Regions from separate parts of the Homo sapiens genome. Here region 1 is linked to region 2. Evidence: fine-mapped expression QTL. A gene starts in region 2. The other region holds a variant in brackets. All regions are shown on one strand. Distances are between the middles of the regions. Region 1 overlaps LOC105375490 (a long non-coding RNA gene). Region 2 holds the start of ARF5 (ARF GTPase 5).

Evidence for each region. PIP is the estimated chance that this variant, and not a neighbour inherited with it, causes the effect. A credible set is the group of variants that fine-mapping cannot tell apart.
Region 1: its variant is the best candidate, but not a certain one, in a credible set for the expression of ARF5 in whole blood (TOPMed, PIP 0.83).

Annotation. Positions count from the first base shown.
Region 1 is chr7:127,525,441-127,537,064 of GRCh38, forward strand. LOC105375490 (a long non-coding RNA gene) reads right to left here. Exons shown (of 5, transcript XR_007060511.1): 2 at 9,709-9,791. Among named protein-coding and RNA genes, the nearest start is that of GCC1, 54 kb to the right of the region's middle. RefSeq lists an enhancer at 8,892-11,624. The variant C/T (reference allele first, on the strand shown) is at 5,457.
Region 2 is chr7:127,582,616-127,594,239 of GRCh38, forward strand. ARF5 (ARF GTPase 5) reads left to right here and starts at 5,796. Exons shown (of 6, transcript NM_001662.4): 1 at 5,796-5,950; 2 at 6,468-6,548; 3 at 6,870-6,979; 4 at 7,451-7,522; 5 at 8,348-8,473; 6 at 8,598-9,085. The coding sequence starts at 5,884. The coding sequence ends at 8,684. GCC1 (GRIP and coiled-coil domain containing 1) reads right to left here and starts at 2,981. Exons shown (of 2, transcript NM_024523.6): 1 at 1,536-2,981; 2 at 1-694. The coding sequence starts at 2,567. It overlaps LOC105375490 (a long non-coding RNA gene), which reads right to left and starts at 7,231. Exons shown (of 5, transcript XR_007060511.1): 1 at 7,141-7,231. It overlaps LOC105375489 (a long non-coding RNA gene), which reads right to left and starts at 9,625. Exons shown (of 3, transcript XR_007060513.1): 1 at 9,514-9,625; 2 at 9,198-9,389; 3 at 7,254-7,336. It also overlaps FSCN3. RefSeq lists enhancers at 2,330-3,329, 3,050-3,099, 4,617-5,243, 5,244-5,869, 5,870-6,496 and 3 more and a silencer at 5,633-6,122.

The DNA.
Region 1 (11,624 bases), 57 kb before region 2:
AATTGAAAACACACATCCACACAAAAACTTGTACATGAATGTTCATAGCAGCACTATTCACAATAGCTAAAAAGTGGAAATAACCCAAAAATGTCCATTGATTGATAAATACATAAATAAAATGTGGTATATTCAATGGAATATTATTCAGCTTTAAAAAGCAAATGATTCGTGCTGCAACATAGGTAAACCTTGAAAATATGCTAAGTGAAAGAAGCCAGACACGAAAGAACCTGCATATTATGTGATTCCATTTACACAAAATGTCCAGAATAGACAAATTCATAGAGACAGAAAGTAGTTGCCAGGGGATAGGGAAGCCGGGTAATGGAAACTGACTGCTAATGGGTGTGGAGTTTCTTTTTGGAGCAATTAAAATACTCTGGAATTAGAAATCAGTGATGGTTGCACAACTCCATGAATATATTAAAAACAACTGGATTGTATACTTTAAAAGTTTGAACATTATAGTATGTCAATATTATCTCAAAAAAGCTGTTATTTCTCTGCAAATGCTTGTCGATAGGAAGAGGATTGTGTTCTAATCAGTGAAGGAGTCTCCAGAAAGAGATGGGAGTGGGGCTCCTAACCCCTGGAGGGGTTAGAATTTCATTCCTCTCAGGGCACCAGGTTCTTGACTCTGGCCTTCCCCTCTCTTTCTCTTTTTAATTCAAAAAATCAGCGCTGTGTTGATGTTACTTTAGGTAAATTAACTTCTTCTGACCTCAGTTTTCTTTTCTGAAGTATTCACCCAGGGGAGTCGTAACCTAGATATTAAGCACACACAATGGACTCAGCAGGGCTACTATTTTAATCTCAGCTCATCCAGCTGGGAGACTCTGGTCATGTTATTTAACCTTGCCAGCCTCACTTATGCTCACTGTAAAGTGACGGATAATTATACCCACCTCACACATTGTAGAGAATGAAACAATCTACAGAGCACTAATTGGGGTCTTGACAGGGGGTGAACACTCTGTAATTATAGCCATTATCTCAGAGGCCCCTTCCAGTTCTAAAATGTTCTGAGACGTCAAATAGAATTATATTTAAGTCATATATATTACAAAAATAGTAATCAACGTAGAATAATAGCTTATGATGACATAATGCAGAACTTAATAAGGAAATGTGGAAGAAGTCTTCTGATCATTTTGCACAAACACTTCCATTACGACAGTGTGTACTCGGTACTTTTTTCCATCTTTTGCCAGTTGCCAGATTTCTCAGATGAGAAAGAATGCCTAATAAGATTTGAGGTGTAGTTCAGTTGTCCCTGAATACACAAACATTTTCTTTCTATAATGCAGCTAAATTCTGGCCACGACTCTCTTATTGCTCCTGTGGGTCACAAAATTGGTGGATGTGCACATGTTAGTCTGTGGCAAGTCACAGCAACAGACACTGTTGTCTCTGCCCTTTATGTTCCGAGTCAGACAGAAGACTCTTTGATGATGGCCTAGCAGGTTTTTTTCCAGCTAATTTTGATGCCTGTGTGCTTGAGATGCTATTTCTTACATCATCAAGCAAACATTACTGGCATAATTTGAAAAATTACAAAATTACAGGGATGTCTCTATTTACTGTTTTGACAGACTGACTTCTCGTTCTCAAGGTGTCTCCCCTTTTCTTCAAGTGGTAATTTACCAAAAAGTTAGTTACCGATCATTAGTTCCCACATGGACCTAGCCCAGTAGTCTAAATTAAGAGTGAAAAAAGAGGAAAATCATGTAACTTACCCCCAGTGCAGCCAATAATTTTTCTCAGAAAATAGAGAAACAGAAATGACTAAAGGAGAAATTACTATTAATTTCATTAATAATAATAATGTCAACAATAACAATTCCTGCAAAAAAAAACCCTTAGACTTAGTCATGAGATAATGAAGCCTCATTTTATTTTTAAGTAAATACATGCCACATGAAGAAACAGCAGCTTGTGGTTAGATCTAGAGCCATTCAAATCTCTCCAAGCCTACAAACATACCATAAAATAAAAAACATTCTGGTATTCATAGGTAAGCACATCTGTAGTGAATTTGCTAACTAGGGAAGACAGAGAACAGTCACAGAGGCAGAGACCCCCTTCTCTGTGACTCACCTTTCCACTGGGGCTCTGAGCAACCCAGGCCGAGGGAGACCACTTTGTTTCTCCCAAGCCCTGGAGCTAAGTTGGGGAGAGGCTTGGAGATGCTGTGAGGGAAAGACACCAGGAAAAGCTGCAGACATTTTTCTAGACCCAGGACTGAGAGCAGGATGCCATTCTTAATCCAAGCACATACCAATCAGCCACTCTTAGGCAGCCCGGCAGCATGGCCACGCAGGCATTTTAGTCTCAAGCACCTACTCTGAACTATGGAAGGGGCCTCAACAGCCAGAACTGTCGAAAGTGCCTCAGCAGTAGGGCTAGAATTGGGCTCTCTCCAGTCACAAGCCTGGGGCAGGAAGAGGCTACTACAGCTGCAGTTTCTCCTTGGCAAAAAACAAGCACAAACTAATCTGAAAGCTAGCAGGATAAAAGAAATAACTAAAATCAGAGCTGAGGTGAATGAAATCGAGACTCGAAAAATCGAGACCCGAAAATCCGTAAAAAGAATAAACAAAACCAAAAGTTGGTTCTACGAAAGTATAAACAGGATTGACAGACCACTAGCTAGATTAACAAAGAAAAAAAGAGAGAAGGTCCAATCAAGCACTATCAGAAATGACAAAAGTGACATTACAACTCATCCCTCAGAAATACAAAAGATCCTCAGAGACTATTATGAACACCTCTATGCACACAAACTAGAAAATCTAGAGAAAATAAATTTCTGAAAACACATAATGTCCCAAGATTGAATAAGGAAGAAATTGAAACACTGAACAAACTAATGTCGAGTTCCAAAATTGAATCAGTATAAAAAACTTACCAATCATAAAAAGCCCTGGACCAGACAGATTCACTGCTGAATTCTACCAGATGTACAAAGAAGAGCTGGTACCAATTCTACTGAAACTATTCCAAAAAAACAAATAGGAGGGACTGCTCCCTAACTCATTCCACAAAGCCAGCATCACCCTGATACCAAAATCTGGCAAAGACACAATGAAAAAAGAAAACTACAGGCCAATATTCCTGATGAACATAGACACAAAAAGCCTCAACAAAATACTGAATTCAAAAACACATCAAAAAGTTAATTCACCATGATCAAGTAGGCTTGTTTCCTGGGATGCAAGGTTAGTTCAACATATGCAAATCAATACATGTGATTGACCACATAAACAGAGTTAAAAACAAAAACCATAAAATCATCTCAATAGATGCAGAAAAAGCTTTTGATAAATCCCACATCCCTTCATGACAAAAACTCTCAAGAAACTAGGCATCAAAGAACATACCTCAAAATAATAAGAGCCATCTATTGACAAACTCACAGCCAACATCACACCAAATTGGCAAAAACTAGAATCATTTCCCATGAGAACTGGAACAAGACAAGGATGCCCACTCTCACCACTTGTATTCAACATAGTAATGGAATTGCTGGCGAGAGCAACTGGGCAAGAGAAAGAAATAAAAGGGATCCAAATAGGAAAATAAAAAGTCAAATTATCTCTCTTCACTGATGATATAATTCTATACTTAGAAAACCCTAAGGACCCTGCCAAAAGGCTATTAGAACTGATCATTTTAGTAAGGTTTCAGGATATAAAATTAATGTACAAAAAACAATAGCATTTCTATACACCAATAATGTTCAAGCCGAGAATCAAATCAAGAATGCAAACCCATTTACAATAGCCACAGTGCAAACCCAATTACAATAGTACCCCTGCTGACACACACACACACACACACACACACACAAATACCTAGGAACACATCTAGCCAAGGAAGTGAAAGAACTCAACAAGGAGAACTACAAAACTCTGCTAAAAGAAATCACAGATGATACAAACAAATGGAAAGACATTCCCTGCTCGTGAATTGGGAGAATCAATATTATTAAAATGGCCAACTGCCCAAAACAATCTACAGATTCAAAGCTATTCCTATGAGACTACCAATGTCAATTTTCACAGAATTGGGAAAAAAAACTATGCTAAAATTTATACAGAACCAAAAGAGCCCAGATAGCCAAAGCAATTTCAAGCAAAAAGAACAAAGCCAGAGGCATCACATTACCTACCTTCAAACTATACTATAAGGCTACAGTAAACAAAACAGCATGGTACTGGTACAAAAACAGACACATAGACCAGTGGAACAGAAGAGAGAATCAAAAAGTAAAGCCATACACCTATAGCCATCTGATCTTTGACAAAGTTGACAAAAATAAGCAATGAGGAAAAGACTGCCTATTGAATAAATGATACTGGGATAACTGGTTAGCCATATGCAGAAGAATGAAACTGGACTTTCACCTCCATCATATAAAAAATTAACTCAAAATGAATTAAAGATTTAAATGTAAGACCTCAAACTATAAGACTCCTAGAAGAAAACCTAGGAAACACCATTCTGGACATTGACTTCGGGAAAGAATTTATGACTAAGTCCTCAAAAGCAATCACAAAAAAATTATGACAAGTGGGACCTAATTAAACTAAAGAGCTTCTGCAGAGCAAAAAAAACTATTAACAGAATAAAAAGACAACCTACAGAATAGGAGAAAATATTTGCAAACTATGCATCTAACAAAGGGCTACTATCCAGAATCCATAAGGAATTTAATTCAACAAGGAAAACACAGAAAACCCTATTTAAAAATGGGCAAAGAATACGAACAGACACTTCTCAAAAGAAGACATACAAGCCAGCAACAAACATGAAAAATGCTCCACATTAGTAATCATCAGAGAAATGCAAATCCAAACCACAATGAGATATCATCTCACACCAGTCAGAGCAGCTATTATTAATGTCAGAAAAACAACAGATGTTGGCAAGGTTGTGGAGAAAAGGGAATGCTTACACACTGTTGATGGGAATGCAAATTAATTAAGTCACCATGGAAAGCAGTTTAGAGATTTCTCAAAGAACTTAAAACAGAAATTCCATTTGCAGCAATCCCATTATTGGGTATATACCCAAAGGAAAACAAATCATTCTACCAAAAGGACACATGTACTTGCATGTTCATCGCAGCACTATTCACAATAGCAAAGACAGGGAATCAACACAGGTGCCCCTCAGTGGTGGATTGGATAAAGAAAATGTAGTATATACACACCATAGAATACTACATAGCCATACAGAAGAATGAAAGTATGTGATTTGCAGCAATATGGATGCAGCTGGAGGCCATTTCCCTAAGCAAATTAACATAGGAATAGAAAACCAAATACCACATGTTCTCACTTATAAATAGGAGTTAAACATTGGGTACTCATGAACATAAAGATGACAACAATATAGACACTGGGGACTACTGGAGCAGGAAGGGAAAGAGGGGGACAAGGGTTGAAAAA[C/T]TAACTGTTGGGTACCATGTTCAGTACCTGGGTGACAGGATCATTCTTACCCAAAACTTCAGCATCATGCAATATATCCAGGCAACAAACCTGCATATGTACCCCTGAATCTAAAATAAAAGTTGAAAAATACATATATTCCATAGTACCAGTAAATTATGCAGGATTTCTCAAAACAGATAACATGCACAATGACATTTAGAATCATATTACTCTATCTTGATACTGTTTTGCCATCTGCAAGACTCTACAATTAATGCATCCTGCTGTAACTTTACTATTTTGTCAAACTGGAATATTGTATGTAGGTCCAAAGGCTTTGTGTTGTAGACACTTAATGAATAAATTGATTTAGAAAACGGGAACCAAGACAAATTCCAGAAAATTCAGGGCATGTTAAAATATTTGGCATTCAAATAGATGACCTGTTATAAAGCCTACATATTTGTATACTTTTTGAAAGGGACTGGACCCCAGAGCCAGATGAACTAAGTTCTACTAAGCTTTGACACTGGAGAATTTAACTTCTCTGTGACTCAGTTTTTTCATTAGTAAAGTGGGGATAGGAGTAGTACATATCATAGGGTTGTAAGGAGAACTAAAAGTGAGCTAACATGTGTAAAACACTTAGAATGGTGTCTGGCACATAGTAAATACTATATGGGAATCAGCTGTTTTTACTTCTCAGGTACTAGAGGTAGGAGCTCCAGTAAGGTGCCATTTTAGCATGACCAATACAAACAAGTCCCTTGGTTTGGCACTTCAGGATTCCTGAACCCAAAGATCCAACTGGGCTAATGACCTAAGCTAACAGATGAGCCCTTCTATTAGCAACATAATGAGTTTGGAGTTCTCTCCTCCAAATGCCTTCAACCCTAAACATCCAGGTGCCGGAGGAGAGCATGCTCTGGATCAGCAGCTAGTAATTAATGAAGAGACACCATTAGGAGCCCATCTATGGATACCACTTTGCAGAAAAGAGTGATACAGTAGAGTCTACCGATAATAACACTTATAAAACATTTTCGATAATTGAAAAGCACTTCAAGATTCAATAATATTTCAGAACTGTTGTTATGAGCATTAGTTATTGATATGGTTTGGATTTGTGTCCCTGCCCAAATCTCATGACAGATTGTAGACCCCAGTGTTAGAGGAGGGGCCTGGTAGCAGGTGATTGGTTCATGGGGACAGATTTCCCCCTTGCTGTTCTCATGATAGTGAGTGAGTTCTCACGAGATCTGGTTGTTTAAAAGTGTATGGCACCTCCCTCTTCTCTTTCTTCCTCCTGCTCTGGCACATAAGACGTGCCTCCTTCCTCTTTGCCTTCCGTCATAATTGTAAGTTTCCTGAGACCTCCCCTGCCATGCTTCCTGTACAGCCTGTGGAAGAGTGAGCCAATTAAACCTTTTTTCTTTATAAATTACCCAGTCTCAGGTAGTTCTTTATAGCAATGCCAGAACAGACTAATACAGTTATCACCATATTATAGAGATACAGGCATGCATAGAAAGATAACAACTTGGCTGGGTGCCAGGGGCTCATGCCTGTAATCCCAGTGCTTTGGGAGGCCAAGGCAGAAGTATTACTTGAGGCCAGGAGCTCAAGACCAGTCTGAGCAACATAACAAGACCCTGTCTATACAAACATAAAATTTTTTTTTTAAATTAGCTAAGTGTGATGATGCACACCTGTAGTCCTAGCTACTCAGTGGGCTGAGACAGGAGGATCACTTGAGCCCAGGAGTTCAAGGCTGCAGTGAGCTATGAACAACAGAACAAGACTAAGGAAGGAAGGAAGGAAGGAAGGAAGGAAGGAAGGAAGGAAGGAAGGAAAGAGAAGGGGAAAGGGAAGGGGAAGGGAGGGGAGGGGAGGGAAGGGAAAGGAAGGAGGGAGAGAGGGAGGGAGGGAGGGAGGCTTTACTATTTTACATTGCCACTAGCAATATATGAGTGATTCATTTTGTCCATATCCTCACCAGCATTCATCACTGTTATTTTTCATTTTAGCCATTCTGATAGGCATGTAGAGATATCTCATTGTGGTTTTTACTTTGCATACCTCTAATGCCTTGTTATGTTGAACATCTTCTCATGTGCTGATTTGACATCTGTGTAGTTTCTTCAGTGAATACTTTTTCTTGCCTTTTGCCCATTTTCTAATTGAATTATTTGGTTTTTATTGCTATGTTTTGAAAATTCTTTATATATTCTAAATACTGGTCCTTTATCAGATATGTGGTTTGAAAATATTTTCTCCCAGTCTCTAGCTTATCTTTTCATCTCCTTGACATAGACTTTCTCAAAGCAAAAGTTTTTAAGATCCAATTGATCAATTTTCCCTTTTATGAATTATGCTTTTGATGTCAAATTTAGAACCCCACAGTAACAGTCATCACACTAGAAGTAGGGTGAGCTATTCATCCAGGTTTCCCCAGGACTTTCCTGACTTTAGCACTGAAAGTTTCACATTCTGGGAAACCCTTCAGTTCCAGAGAAACCATGATGATCACCCAAACTAGAACCTGCCCCTCTTTTGCACCAAAGCAACAGTGAAGGGGCTAGTTCACTTTTAGGAACAGGAAGACAGCATATACTGTGACTTAGAACCAGTACATGAGATCACTATACATGAGTACATTGTGACGCTGCAAGGTTATGCCATGTGCAATGGTAACTTTGCCATTTCCTCCTTTACTATAATGGGCTTGATGCTCTAGAAAGGTGGGCTGGCAGGGAAACAGAGAGCTTCACTTACATGCTCATCCCTTAGATCCTGCGCCCCCCATTCTGGAGTCTGGACCTGGGACAGCTCTTCTCCCAATTCCCACCCACATCCTCCCCCATGTAGTTCAATCCTTTGAGCCAGGGTCCTCTATCCTGGCTGCACACCAGAATCCCCTAAGCAGCTCTGCAAAAATGCTCATGACTGGGCTTCCTCTCCAACCAATTAAATTTGATTCCCTGGGAGTGGGGCCCAGGCATTTATCAATTGTAAAAAATCCTCAAGTGATTCCAGTGTGTGGCTAGGGTTGAGCCTCCCTGCTCCAGGCTCTAGGAGTGTAAACCGAGGGGGAGCAGGGATGAGATCTGTCTGCTACCACTGTACCCACAGCACCTGGTACAGTGCCCACCTGTAGTAGGCCTCTGATATATATTTGGTAATTTTTTAAATGAGTGAATAATACAGAAATGATCAAAGACTGGGACCAAATACCACTTACTTTGTCTCTGCTGCTTGAAACCGAAGAATCAAATCAGGTGCAAGATAAACTGTAAGATAAGCCTACCTAAAACTAGACTGTCCCCACACCCTTCCTAATCTCCCAGAAAAGCTACTGGAGTTGAAAAGTCAAGAAATTCCTCATTGCATCAATGGGCATTTTTATTCCCATCATGTTACAAATGGATATTTGGCTCTGGGACAGTGAGAGTGCACCTCGTCTCCAGGTGAGTTAGAATCCAGAGCCCCTGGTGGCATCAGCCTCACCAGGGAGCTGGCTAGAAATGCAGATTGTCAGGCCCCATTCCAGACCAACTGAATTAGAATCTATTTTAATAAGAACCCCAGTCATCCACATGCTCACTAAAATTTGGGAAGCACCCATCCAAACCAAATGACTGAGAAGTGATCATGGGAGAGAATCAGGTAGCTGTCCTGGAAGAGCAATGACCCCGCATCCCTCGCCCCAACCAAGCCTGTGAAGGAAAGAGACCCTCAATGAGGTCGGGGAAAGAGAAAGGGGTGGAGCCATACACAGAGGTCAAATCACAGCATTATTGGCCTTCACAAAATCCCGTGAGGCATCTTAGGACTTGAATCCTTAACCTTTCAAGTCTAAGCCTTGAGCTTGGAAGATTCATGAGCAAGCAAATGGATGCAGCAGAGAAGAAGAACCTGCAGATGCCGTGTCATGTGTTTTTAATTTCCTGAAGGATTTGGGTGATGACAGGGCTAAGTATCATCCTGAGATGGACTGGAGAATGTGGCAGTGTCTCTGAATTACCCGGCAGCAGAGGCAAGCTCCCTGGAGTTGCTGTGGGAGGCAGGGTGGGTGGGCCTCCTTGCTCCCTCCCCCACGTGGCCAGAGTTTTGTAATTCCCACATGACGTCCACTGTGCTGGGCAGTCCCCTCACAGCACAAGGCCCCTTAGAAACCTTTGCTTGTCTCTGTCCCGTCCAGCATTTTAGTTAGCATGTCAGCATCCTCACCAGTGTTTACGATTGGGAGCTTATTATTTTCATCACTTACTTCTTTCTAAAAGCAGCCATTGCTGGAGTTTGACGATGAAAAGGGATGGCTGTGGTCATTTTGTACATCAGGGGCACTTATACCTGCAAGGAAATAATTTATTTTTTGCAAATTCTAGATACCTGATTGTACTCCTTTATGCAATTTTCTCTAGATTCTAGTATTATCTATGCATCCCTTCCTGCAGAGACAATAGCTTATGCCCACCACAAGTTTATAGAGAACAGCCCCCAAACTAGGGTAAACATTGAGGAAAGAGCTAAAACCTCAACAAACTTCATCCTAAGTCCCTCTCTGCCCTCAATCCTAACCTGAGTGTGGTGGCAGAGACACAGAAGCACCAGAATGGGCTCTCTCAGGTAGAAACTGTGCTGAAACAATTATGCTTTGCTCTTGATGAAATTGGTTAAACTATTTGCTGCTTTACAACATCATATACGGAAAACATTTTTCTTGCCTAGACATGGCTTGAGGCGGTTTTTGCATTCTGCATCAGGAGGAAATTGATTAATGTGAATGTTTTAGCTGTGGTTGTTGTTTGTGTATAAACTTTTGTTGAAACAAGTAGGACAGAATAAATGACCTTTATGTAGACACCTATTAAGGCACTAAAAGGCTTGGCTACATTCATCTGAGACGCGTACACATAACGAGTAGAACAATAAGGGGATCAGCAGCTGCAAGGAGTTGAATTGAATTCTTCAACAATAGAAAAGTTTTTCAGACCCAAATACCAGCAATCAAAGAGAATTTTTGCAGATAATCCAAGAGAAAGAAAATAAAAAAAAAAATGCTAGCCAACTTTGCACCAGTTAGCATAAGGTTGCCATCTGAAACATGTCAGCTTAAGAGCAGACCATACCTCCATTCTTTTGCCCAACTGCAGTATTCAGAACTGTTTCCCCAAATAATCCCAGATGGCACACCACAAAATTTCAATTCATTTTAAAAGCTTTCTTTGCTGTTATTATGTGATTGAAAGTGCAAAAGCAAGTTGCCATTCTCATGGCACTATTTGCATTGACTATTATCCCCTAAAATCCCCTTTAAACAGCTACATTGTCAGCCCATAGGCCTCATTTAGAACTACAAAAAAGCCCAGATTAATTCGATCAAAGAAAGAGCCAAGTACAAAATGCACTTTTCAAACTGTATCAGAGTGGGTTCGCTTTACAGATCGCTTTGGGGCAAGAACCGCAGGGGAAAGAAAGTCCTGAAATAAAGCTTGGTTACGAAGCGAAATAACTAGGTTTGGCTCCCTGATTTATTTGAGCATCTCAAGGCGAAATCTCCAATTAAGAATTCTTCGAGGGAAATGTATTTAAATATAAATGCTGAAACAGATCCCCACAAATTGCAGCATCCCATTTGCTTTCAGCCATTGGCTTTCAGCCACCATTCTCAGGGGCAGCTTGAAGCCCTGCCTGGGTAACCTGGTTAGTAGGAGGCATTTCTGAAATCTCACACTCTGAATCAAGCCAAAGTACTTTACACTTGTAAAAATGTCTATCTGACTTTTCTCAGCCCATCCCAGAGGAAATGTTTTACGTTACCACAAGAAAATAAATTGCTGGAAAACAATGATGACACCATTTCTTTCAGCAAAACAAAACATGCTAGGATTCAGGTCGAATTCCGCGATGATCCGCCTGCTGCAAGCCCAGGTTCTTACAGGAACGCTGACCGGGCTGTCTGCTGGTCGCGTGGTGTGCTGTTTGTTTTAGTCTCACCTGGGGGTCTGAAGGTGGGGGAGAAGGTTGGGGTGAGCCAAGCTGGAGTTTGGATTTCTTAGGGACTCTCCATTAGTTTCCTAGGCAGGGTTTGCAGCGTCTGTCACCACTGAAGATGGTGCAGCGGCGCGCTGCAGCCGGCATGCTGCACCGAAGCTGTACCCTTCAACGGCTACTTTTGTGTGC
Region 2 (11,624 bases):
CCCTGAAGTCCAGCTGGCACCGCTCCAGCTCCTGCCGGTGGAGCTGCTGCAGCCGGGCCAGCTCCTGCTTCCAGTCATCAGCCTCCTGCTGGTGTTGGTGCTCCAGCTCCTCGCAGGAGAGCCGCAGGGAAATATACTTCTCCTTCAGCTCTGCAAGCTGTTCCTGGGCTGCCTCCAGCTCCTTTCCCAGGTTACCATCTTTGGTATTCTTGCTTTTGAGGACAACCTGGGCTCTCATCTTGTACCTCTCAAACTCTTCCTTCAGCTGTTTCAGCTCCTGTTGGTAATAGAGTGCAGTAGCCTTCTCCCCATCAGCAGCCTCCGAGCTGGGCATTATCTCCAGGTCACAGAGCTTCTCCACATCCAGGGTCACCTGGCTTTTCCTGGCCGCAACCTGCAGCAGCCTCTTCAGCTTCTCCATCTTATCTTTCAGGACATTGACATCCAGACTGGACTCCTCTCCATGGCTGTCTAAAGGGGACCTGCTGGAGGCTGCTAGAGCCAGTGTCTTGTTCTCCAGGTCCAGCTGCAGAATGCGCTCCTTCAGCTTCTGAATGGCCAGCTGGTCCTTCTGCTTGGCTTTCTCGTAGGTGCCTAGCAGCTCAGACACCTCGGATATTTGATTCTCCAGGGCTGCCACCCTCTGTTCTTCTACCTGAGATTGCTGACGGAGTTGATCCTCTGCAAGAGCTGTCTGCAAAACAAGGGAACAGACAAAAATGCATCCACAAAAGCCCCACAGCAAACTCTGAGAAAGCAGGAGAGGGGAGCAAAAGGGTCACAGGTTTGGGATGGCCTGGCAAGAATGCTAACTAGGGATTTTTCGGTTGATTCAGGAGCTAACAAAAGTTCCTATTACCTGCTTGGATTCTGCAAGACACATATTATACTGAACAATATGAAGCACCTTGGTACATCTGCTATTGTTCTGCTTTCCACCTAACCACATATAATGTGTGTTACTGTTGTTTCTCAGGTGCTTCCTCAAATCCTATTAAGAAATCATACAGCATTCTTTTCCTTATCCAATATTCCTGGAAGTTCAAAACTGCGCTGGATCTCCCTCTCCACATTGAAAGGAGGCACCCTTTCAATACCTGTTCTGGAAAATAGCACTTCTCCAGAACAGGCACATCTTGAGTAAAGGCAATGACAAGAGGTTACTTCTGAGAAAATCCCCTTTGCCTTCGGCCACTCTTCCTAGAGGCACATACCAACAGAAGACACGCTACCTTTTACTATACAGCTGCCACTATACTGCTTCATAGAGCACAGCTGGTAAGATGCCAATGCCCAGAAGTGCAGAGCTGTCTGGCTTCAACCCAGCCTACACTGAGAAGCTCCACATCCTCCTGGAAGCACATATGTCAACACCGCATAGAACAGGACTTCCCAGGTTCACTAGTGGAACTTCTCAGGTGGCATCAAAAATGACAGTATAGACACTTAGCTCTAACTAGCAAAGGAGGAAAAAAACCCTAATATTTCTCACTTCAGGTCAATGGCTGATGTTTGAAAGAGATATGGATAATTACCTTTCTCATTTCCTGCTGTAACTGAGCCTGGAAATGGCTCTTAAGGCGGGCAGCCTCTTCCTGAAGTTCTTGCAGCCGGGGATCTGGCTGATTCTTCTCATCTCGAATGGCCTGCAGTTCACTTTTCAGCTCCTCCACCTCACGGGTCAGCTGCTTGGTCTGCAGTTCAAATCCTTCCATCTGTTCAGCTGCATATGCTCGTCCTGCCAAGGCTTCTCGGGTCTCTTCTAACCTAAGCTCCAAGTCCTGGCGCTGGGTCCTCTCCTCCTGCAGCAGCTTCTGGAGCTCACGCAGCATCAAGGCATGGTCACTCTGCTCTTGGGCCCGATCATGCTGCTGCGTGATAAGCCGGGCTTTGGTTTCTGCTATTTGCTCCTGCAGCCCCTTCAATTCTCCCTCCAGGCGGGCCCTCTCCTCCTCCGCCTTGTTACTGGCATCCTCTAAGTCCTGTTTCATCTTTTTCTTGTCAGCCAAGTAAGAAGCCTCCATGCGGGACTTCTCCTGAGTGACTGTAGCCAAAGAACTGGTCAAAGTAGCCAACTGAGTCTTCAGCTGGTGCAGTCTTTTGTCCACCTCCCCACCTGCAAATGGCCCATCCCCACTGCTACTGCTAACGCCACTCTCGGACCAACTGGCCTCTTCGGACTTTGGAGGTGGTGGTCCACGGGCCGGTCTGTCATCTTCTACCCCAAACTCACCCTTGGTGCTGGTGAGACTGGCCGCAGTATCCAAGCTAGTGGCGGTCCCAGTGCTATCCTCGCTGTGAGTGGAGCACCGGTCATCCACAGAGTCAGGAAAGGTGAGGCCTGGAAGCTGGACACCTGCGAGGCCCACATCTGCCTCGTGGGATACCGACAGCACCTTGATGCTGGCCTCTAATGCCTCTTTCTCCTTCAGCAGGCTTTTATAGGCACGGACCACATCCTTGAGCCGTGCCTGGTACTGGAGAAGCTGCTTCTTCTGGGTCTCTATAGTCTCCAGCAAGTCCTTCTTGCTCGGGCCGCCCCCGAAATTCATCCCAAACTTCTCCATGGAGGGTCTGAACGGATTGCCCCACGTCAGCTTTCCAGCAGAACGGGAGAGGGCCGTGAAGACGCAGGCGGGGGCTTAAAGAAACAGCGAGCGGGCTGTCCGGCGGCGGGCCGCACACCTACTCCACCTAGTTATCCCGGACCTAATGCGGAACGGCCGGACGGACTGGCGAAAGCGGCCGCCCGGTCCCAGGCCCGGAGGGCTGGGGCGGATTCTACCCCGGAGGCGGGGCGACACTGGCACCAGAGGTGCGCACTGCCAGGGCTCGTTAGCGCTGGCCCAGAAGCCGCTCCGCACTCTCCGCTCGTCTGGGCCACAGCAGCCCGGGCCGGCCCCCTCGGCCCACGTCGGCCAGAGGGTTACGCTGAGCTCGGTCCCATCACGACATCCTAACTAAAGCTGCCTGCCGACAACGGCGCTTCCGTGTCCGCTGGAAGTGACGTCAGCGAGGCGCCGCAGGCTCCGCCCCCAGTGGGCCCAAGGTAGGCGGGGCCAAGTCGGCCGGTGGGTGGGCGCGGCCTGTTGAGAACGCAGTGGGGCCGCGAGCGGCAAAAAACAGGCTTGGGAAAGGCGAAGCCAGCAAAGTCGAAGACACCAGAGTGGCACCGGTTTTGTGAGAGCGCCCAAGCTTGACCTCGGGCTACGCTCAGCGAGCGACAGAGCAACGTCGCACTGCATTCTTACCAAACACCCAGGTGAACGACGCATCCAACGATTTGGGAGCTCAGGACCCATGGTCCCTAAAAGGCAACAATTAAGACTCCCATTTAGACCACGAAAACTGCAGTCCTCTATAGCACAGTGCTTGGTACCTAGTAGGCATACAGCCTAATAGTACCCTTCCTTAGTTCTGCTGAGTTGATTCCACAAATATTTACGGAGGGCACTCTATAGCCATGTCTATCCTGAGTGCCAGCTATATACCAGGAGCTCACAAGAGTTTTGCTATTTAGTCTTTACAGTAATTCTTGTAAGCACTATACTCATTAGCACTATTTTACAGATATGAAAACATGAGGCAGAAAGGTTATACGTAACATGCCCAAGGTCACACAGCTAGTAAGTTTAGGAGTTCTAATCAGTCTGATTCTCAACGTATCACGTGCTGTGCCAGATGGTAACACCATTAAGAGACACGACCTTGCCCTCAGGGAGCTCGCAATCTAGTGAGGAACCAGACATACAAATATGTCCTGCTATCACACCAGTATGTCTGGGTATATTCAAAGTGGTATGAAAGTTAAGAGGAAAGAGGCCTGTCTAGGTGAGGCATGGAAGGCTCTTGGGAATAATACTTTGGGATTTGAAGGATGAGTCGTGATTGTCCACCTAACCAGAGATCAGGGAAACTAGCATTCCAGGCAGGTGGAAAAAAATGCAAAGACCTGTAGGGTATCGGAGTTTGACTCACCCAGAAAGCATTCAGTAGCTTAGGGTATGTGAAGGAGGTGACAACAGAGGGGCTGGCACAATAGGTAGGGACCCAACTTATGGCATTTAAATTTTATCTTGGGTTATAGTAAGGCCCTAATGGATTTTAATCTGAAAAGTGGGATGTCATCAAGACTTGTATGACATGTTGGAGGGAACAAGGGGCAGGAAACCTGTGAGGAGACTTTCAGTCATGGGGAACAGAAGGTAGTGACAACAGAGATGGAAGCAAAGAGGCTGATAAAAGAGCTAAATGTAGAATTGACCTAACTTGGTGAACACTAGTTCTGTTATTATATTGGAACTCTCTAAAATGTACTCTTCAGCCTCGTAAAAGCCTTCTTAGGGATGCAAGTCTATGACTGAAGAGAAAAGGAAAGTCATTCACTCACTCATACCTGTTTCCCAAAGTCTGTCCTTGTTACAGACTTTGCAGATCAGGATGGGGCAGGCCCTGGAGGTCTGTTCAGACCCCGTTTCTCAGTGGCCCAAATAACATCAAGCTGTATTATACATAACATTCAGTCACATTATCAAATCATTTTAAGATTCACCATAACCCCTTAAGTTAGAACAAGTCTCATTTTATAGATGATGAAATAACGGAAGAGTTATGAGGAGTGCTGAAGCCAAATCCTCAAGAAATGGCAGAATTAAGATTTGAACTAAAGCCTGAAATCACGTGCTGGCAAGTGGTGGGTGCTCAGTAAATATCTGCTGAAAAAGCAAATGAATGAGTGAAGGTTTTTTTATTCCCAGCTCAGTTTACCTCGAGTCCATAAACAATTGATCCTAGAAGCCCACTGGGAATCCAGAGTAGACATAACACCTACCCTCGCTCCATTGAGAATCTATCAGTCCAGTTCAACTGAACAAGCATTTGTTAGGCCTAATAATGCCTGGCAATGAGCCAGTCTCCACCGCAGAAGAATTTCATTCCTATTTTGCTATTCTCCTCTCAGATGTTAAAATGAGGCAGGGAAATGACATGTGAAGCTCTTTGGGTCTACGGAGTCAAGATCTTCACAAAATCCTGAATGGATGTGCAAGAATAAGCCAGGTCCACAAGTCTGTGGCAAAGTGAGGAACTTCGGCAAAGCGGCCAGCGCCTGGACTGAGAGGCGGGGCCCGCAGGGCGATCCAAACGAAGGTGGACTTCTCCAACAGCCCAGGAGTGGGTCTGTGACCCCGCCGCCCAAGGCCGGGAATCTTACACTGGTTCTGCGGATTGGGAATTAGGAAGTAGGCGTTTTGAGGAACCATGGAAGCTAGCTAGCACTCGGGCACCTTCCCCTACCTCCCGCGCACTCTTCACACGACCACCTACTACGCGCAAGTCCCTCGGTGGAAGATGAGGCAGTAAAGGGAGGACCAAGACCCCTAATCGCAGCTTCCACTCCCCAAAGGAGAGTGGTGCACACGTTCAGTGCTACTGGTTCCCAAGGGCTAAAACCGGAGCCCCTAGGGGCCTGGACGCAACAAACCAAAGCCCAGCGGCCGGCCACTGAAAATGGGGGCAGGGGCCGCTGCGGAGCGATGAATCCTTTCCTCAGCCGCGCTCGGGCTGCCGGTTCGGCGGCCACAGGCCTGGCAGGCGCGTTAGAGACCTAGACCCGTTCCCAAGTAAGGGCCGCACGGGACCCAGGCCAGCAGCGGCAACTCGCGGAGCTTCAGCTCCCCTAGGAGCCAGAGCCGGGGGAGGCGGGGCCGAGAGCCGGGGGCGGGGCCCGGACGGGGGCGGGCCCGCGGTGACGTCGGGAGGGCAGCGACGCGCGGAGGCGGCGGCGGAGCCTCCTCCTGCTGCTGCTGCGCCCCATCCCCCCGCGGCCGGCCAGTTCCAGCCCGCACCCCGCGTCGGTGCCCGCGCCCCTCCCCGGGCCCCGCCATGGGCCTCACCGTGTCCGCGCTCTTTTCGCGGATCTTCGGGAAGAAGCAGATGCGGATTCTCATGGGTGAGGCAGATCGAGCGCGCGGCCCGGACCGGGGCGCCGGCCCCGGCGCAGCCCTTCCGCCCCCGCGTCCCTCCAGCCCCGCTCACCTGGGTCTCTGGCCCCGAGTCACCCACCTCATAACGCCCCGGGGCCTCTGCTCTCGGGCGGGTCCCGGTCTGCATCGCCGACCCCGGGGCCTGACACCCGGAGCTGCGGGCCTGGGTGGGGTGAAGCTCCCTCCGCCCCAGCCCGGCTGGTAAGAAGGGAGGATTCCGCCCTTGGAGACGACTTTTAAAACGAGCGCGGCCTACCTCCCGTGCCCCTTGCCTCCCAGTCCTCTCCCGCTCCGCGCCCTCTTTGGAGTTGGCTCACGCCACCCGACTGCCCTCCAGGCCTCAAAGGTAGATAACGACGCGCACCTGGAGGCGCTCCCGCTCTCCGCCCCAGTCACCATCAGCTGTTGTGGCCTCTCCCTTTCCCTGGTCTCTAGGGGGCTCCCTCGCTCCCATCTCCATCCCTGTGCCCCTTTCCGTTGCAGTTGGCTTGGATGCGGCTGGCAAGACCACAATCCTGTACAAACTGAAGTTGGGGGAGATTGTCACCACCATCCCAACCATAGGTGAGCCCGGGGACGAAGCAGGGAGCGGGAGCGCCGCGGCGGGCCCTCGCGGGGTCTGCTCCCAGTTCTGCCACTTTTCTGGAGCTGACCCTGACACCAGATACAGCTATTTGAGAAGTGGGTCAGGGTATCTCTACGTGGATACCGGAGGCAGGGTGGATGTGACCTAGCCCCGCCCTGTTGACCGCCAGTTCTGGGGTTCTGTTCCCCTGGGCCTTGATCATTGCCTTCTGGTTTTGTGTCCCTGCTGAAATCTAAGTAGTTTTAGTGAGTTCCTTTCTTTCAGGAGTTTTCTCATCTTTTTTTTCCAATTATCTGCAGGCTTCAATGTAGAAACAGTGGAATATAAGAACATCTGTTTCACAGTCTGGGACGTGGGAGGCCAGGACAAGATTCGGCCTCTGTGGCGGCACTACTTCCAGAACACTCAGGTGGAGTGTTGGGAGGGGACTTTCTAACCCCACGGGAAAAGGTGTTAGGGCTGGGAGAACAGAATTGTTGGCCTAGGCTGGGCCCCCAGGCCAAGGAAAAAACCCTTCCCCACTTCTACCCCTTCTGTTTGGCTATCCCCTACTCACTCTTCAGAACTCACCTTAGTCTTCCCCAGCTTGGACTTCTCTTTAGAAGCAGGATTCTGGGACCAGGCTGCCTGATTTAGCCCTCATAACATGTCTTTATTTCCTTGCACATCTTTGGATAAACTACTTCCTCTTTGCAGTGGGGTCTCTAGTTTGTGCCATGACTCCTGTAGAGCTTCTATAGAGTTCTGTAAACTTCTGTAGAGTTTACTAGATGAGAAGGATTGACACAATTACAAATGGGAAGAAAACAGAAAGGGCCACACTACGGTATGTCCCAGGCAGAAGTGATTGCTTCTCCTTTCTTCCTTCCTTCCTGCCCAGGGCCTCATCTTTGTGGTGGACAGTAATGACCGGGAGCGGGTCCAAGAATCTGCTGATGAACTCCAGAAGATGGTGAGTACCCAGAGCCCTGGGAACTGAGCCCTCAGCTTGGGGACAGAGTGATCTCTGTAGTGGTATAGAAGTCAGGGAGCCCCCAACAGGCATTGAAGACCAGGAATATAAGTTTTTCTTTGTGGACAGACACATTGTGTATCTCACCCTGTTTTGGATGGGAGTGACTTTTTCACTTTTTCTGTGCATTGTCTTGTCTTTTTTTTTTTTTGAAATGGGAGTTTTGCTGTTGTTGCCCAGGCTGGAGTGCAATGGTGCAATCTCGGCTCACTGCAACCTCCGTCTCCCGGGTTCAAGCAATTCTCCTGCCTCAGCCTCCCAAGTAGCTGGGATTACAGGCGCCCGCTGCCATGCCCAGTTAATTTTTGTATTTTTAGTAGAGACGGGGTTTCACCATGTTGGCCAGGCTGGTCTTGAACCCCCAACCTCAGGTGATCCACCCGTCTTGGTCTCCCAAAGTGCTGGGATTACAGGAGTGAGCCACTGCGCCCGGCCGCATTCTCATGTCTTTACATCTGAGTCTGAGAAGTTGTGGGAGAGATGGGACTTATATGTGGCAAAGAGAAACATTTTACATTCCTGCCTTTTCCATTTGGAAATGTTGTCATTTTGCCTAGGCAAGTACTCAAATTAGGAAAAGGTCTTTCTTTTCTGGACTTATGGGCTCAGGTCACCTCAAGCTCATTTACAACTATGTCTTGTCTTCAACGGCAGACTGCACAATACTTTTTTTTTCCAATCAAGATGCTAGGAGGTAGAAAGGGAATTCCCCAACACAGTAGAGGAGACGCAGCCTGGGTCCCACCTTCTCTTCTCCTCTCTCAGCTGCAGGAGGACGAGCTGCGGGATGCAGTGCTGCTGGTATTTGCCAACAAGCAGGACATGCCCAACGCCATGCCCGTGAGCGAGCTGACTGACAAGCTGGGGCTACAGCACTTACGCAGCCGCACGGTAGGGGTCCTGCCCACCTGGTGCTGAATCCTGCCTCTTGAGGGAAGCTGCAGGCTGGGACAGAGATATAAAGGCATTCCTTTTGTTCCTGGTTGCTGACCTCTTTCTTTCCTTTTCCCCACAGTGGTATGTCCAGGCCACCTGTGCCACCCAAGGCACAGGTCTGTACGATGGTCTGGACTGGCTGTCCCACGAGCTGTCAAAGCGCTAACCAGCCAGGGGCAGGCCCCTGATGCCCGGAAGCTCCTGCGTGCATCCCCGGGATGACCAGACTCCCGGACTCCTCAGGCAGTGCCCTTTCCTCCCACTTTTCCTCCCCCATAGCCACAGGCCTCTGCTCCTGCTCCTGCCTGCATGTTCTCTCTGTTGTTGGAGCCTGGAGCCTTGCTCTCTGGGCACAGAGGGGTCCACTCTCCTGCCTGCTGGGACCTATGGAAGGGGCTTCCTGGCCAAGGCCCCCTCTTCCAGAGGAGGAGCAGGGATCTGGGTTTCCTTTTTTTTTTCTGTTTTGGGTGTACTCTAGGGGCCAGGTTGGGAGGGGGAAGGTGAGGGCTTCGGGTGGTGCTATAATGTGGCACTGGATCTTGAGTAATAAATTTGCTGTGGTTTGTACACGGTGTTGTCTGTAGCCTGCAAAGGAGAGGCTAGGTTACTGGGTACCAAGAGACAACGTGGGAGAGGATCAAAGCAGCTAAGGCTGCAGGGCAACCCCACCCACACATACCCTCAGCTCAGCTTCTCCCTCCTTATTCTTGGGCTGGAAATACTGTAGGGTTTACAGTGGTGCAAATCTCATTCCTTCCCAGCTCCAAGGAGCCTTTGCTGAAGATTACAGGATCTCCCTTCATAGTTCCATGAACCACGTAATTGTTTCCCATCATTCTCGTAGCTACTTAGAGCCGTTCTTAATGTTTGCCTTACACATTAAAATTAGAGGGGGAGAGAATGTGCGTTAATAATACGAATCCTGAGGTACATTTCAGAAAATGTGATTCATCAGGACTAGTCTGATGCCCAACAATATGCATCTTTAAAATTACCCAGAGGAGGCCGGGCGCAGTGGCTCACGCTTGTAATCCCAGCACTCTGGGAGGCTGAGGCAGGCGGATCACGAGGTCAGAAGATCGAGACCACGGTGAAACCCCATCTCTACTAGAAAAAAAAAAATACAAAAAATTATCCAGGCGTGGTGGCAGGCACCTGTAGCCCCAGCTACTCAGGAGGCTGAGGCAGGAGAATGGTGTGAACCTGGGAGGCGGAGCTTGCAGTGAGCTGAGATCGTGCCACTGCACTCCAGCCTGGGTGACAGGGTGAGACTCCGTCTCAAAATAAATAAATAAATTAAATAAATAAATAAAATTACCCAGGGAATTCTGCCACTAATAGTCTATTACCCTTATTTTATAAAACATCGGTGGGGTCTGGGGCTTGTAGTTCCTTGCTGCACACCACTGAGACTCTTGCTACTTGGGAAGACCCCTCCTATGGGGAATAGGAAAGCAGGTATAAGGAACCACGGGTGGCTGGGCACTGTGGCTCATGCCTGTAATCCTAGCACTTTGGGAGGCTGAGGTAGGAGGATTGCTTGAGCCCAGAAGTTAAAGACCAGCCTGGGCAACATGGCAAGACCCCATCTCTACAAAAAACAAAAATAAAAAATTACCTGGGCATGGAGATGGACACCTGTGGTCCCAGCACCTCAGGAGGCTGAGGCGGGAGGATCGCTTGAGCTTGGGAGATCAAGGCTGCAGTCAACTGAGATGCACTCCAACCTGGCTAGCAGAGCAAGACCCTGACTCAGAAAAAGGAACCAGGGGTGTGGCTTATTCCCCAAGTGTGATCGACTGCCCATTTTCCCTTGGATCCTAGCCAGGCTTAGGCAGAACTCATCATCACTTGTTTTTGCCTTTGTTTTTCTTTCATGTCACTTTTCCAGGTTCTGAGCTGGGTTTTCTCCTCAAGCTTTGCAGGAAGTGAGTCCAAGAGACTATAACTCAGAGATTCTTTGGAGGGGAAAGATACCCTTGCAGGAGCTCTATCTGCCCAGCCAGATGTCCTACCCACTGGCAGAGCAGCTGGGGTTGAGGAGGGGTGCTTGGTGCTCTCTCCACCTAGGCCCTTCTCCTTACCCAGGTCCTGAGCCAGCCTTCCTGATGAATATGAGTAATTTGATGTCAACTGATTAACTAGGGTTTCCTCATACTCCCTGCAAAATAGCATCTGGAACATTTTGACCTCATCCTCCTAAGGGCCATAAAAGCTGATAGATTTTTCTTGGTTATCTTGAACTTAACAAAATACTTGAGTTGCAAGGGAGCCAGGCAGAACTCACTTCCTTGGGAGAAAGGAGGTTGCTTTCTATCCTGTTACCAGAATGAGAAACGGAGGTAAAGAAAGGAAAAAACTTGCCTAAATTCACAGGTTGAAGTTCCGGATCCTGGTCTCAGCTCAGCCTACTTTGGTGCCCAAAGGGGAATAGGAAGGCAAACACCGGAGGCTCTGCACCCGCCTCCTCTAGGCCATGGATTAATGCTGCTGCGCCAGGGCCCTTTCCCCACTGTGGTGTGATAAGAGGCTGCCCTCACAGTCACAATGCTCCCGGGTCACAGAGGTGCTGGGCCCCAGGCCAGCCTCTGCCTGGGAAGTTCTCTCTGGGAACATCTGGTGGGTACTACAGGCCCTATTCCAGGCCCTATGGCCTGTGGAACCTCACCACGGGGGGGAGGGCTGGGCCAGACGGAGACATCACCTGTGGTGTCAGCCCCATGGATGAGACAGAGTGGATACACAGACATCCCAAGGCTGAGGACCTAAGGGTTGGGCTCATCAGCTGGGCAGGAACCTACCTCACCTTTGAGGCATGCAAGAATACAGTCACTGCAACTGCGAAGAGTTTGGGCAGGAGACAGGTGACAAAGCAAACCCATGCTGGCACCAGTTTTCTGAGTGGCCAAGCTGTGTGTGTGTGTGTGCGCGCGCGCGTGTGTGTGCGTGAGTGTATGTGTGTGTGTGTGTGTATGTACTTGCCTGTATATGAAAGTATACTGGAACCGGTTTTCTGAGTGGCCAAGCTGTGTGTGTGTGTGTGTGTGTGTGTGTGTGTGTGTGTACTTGCCTGTATATGAAAGTATACTGGAACCAGTTTTCTGAG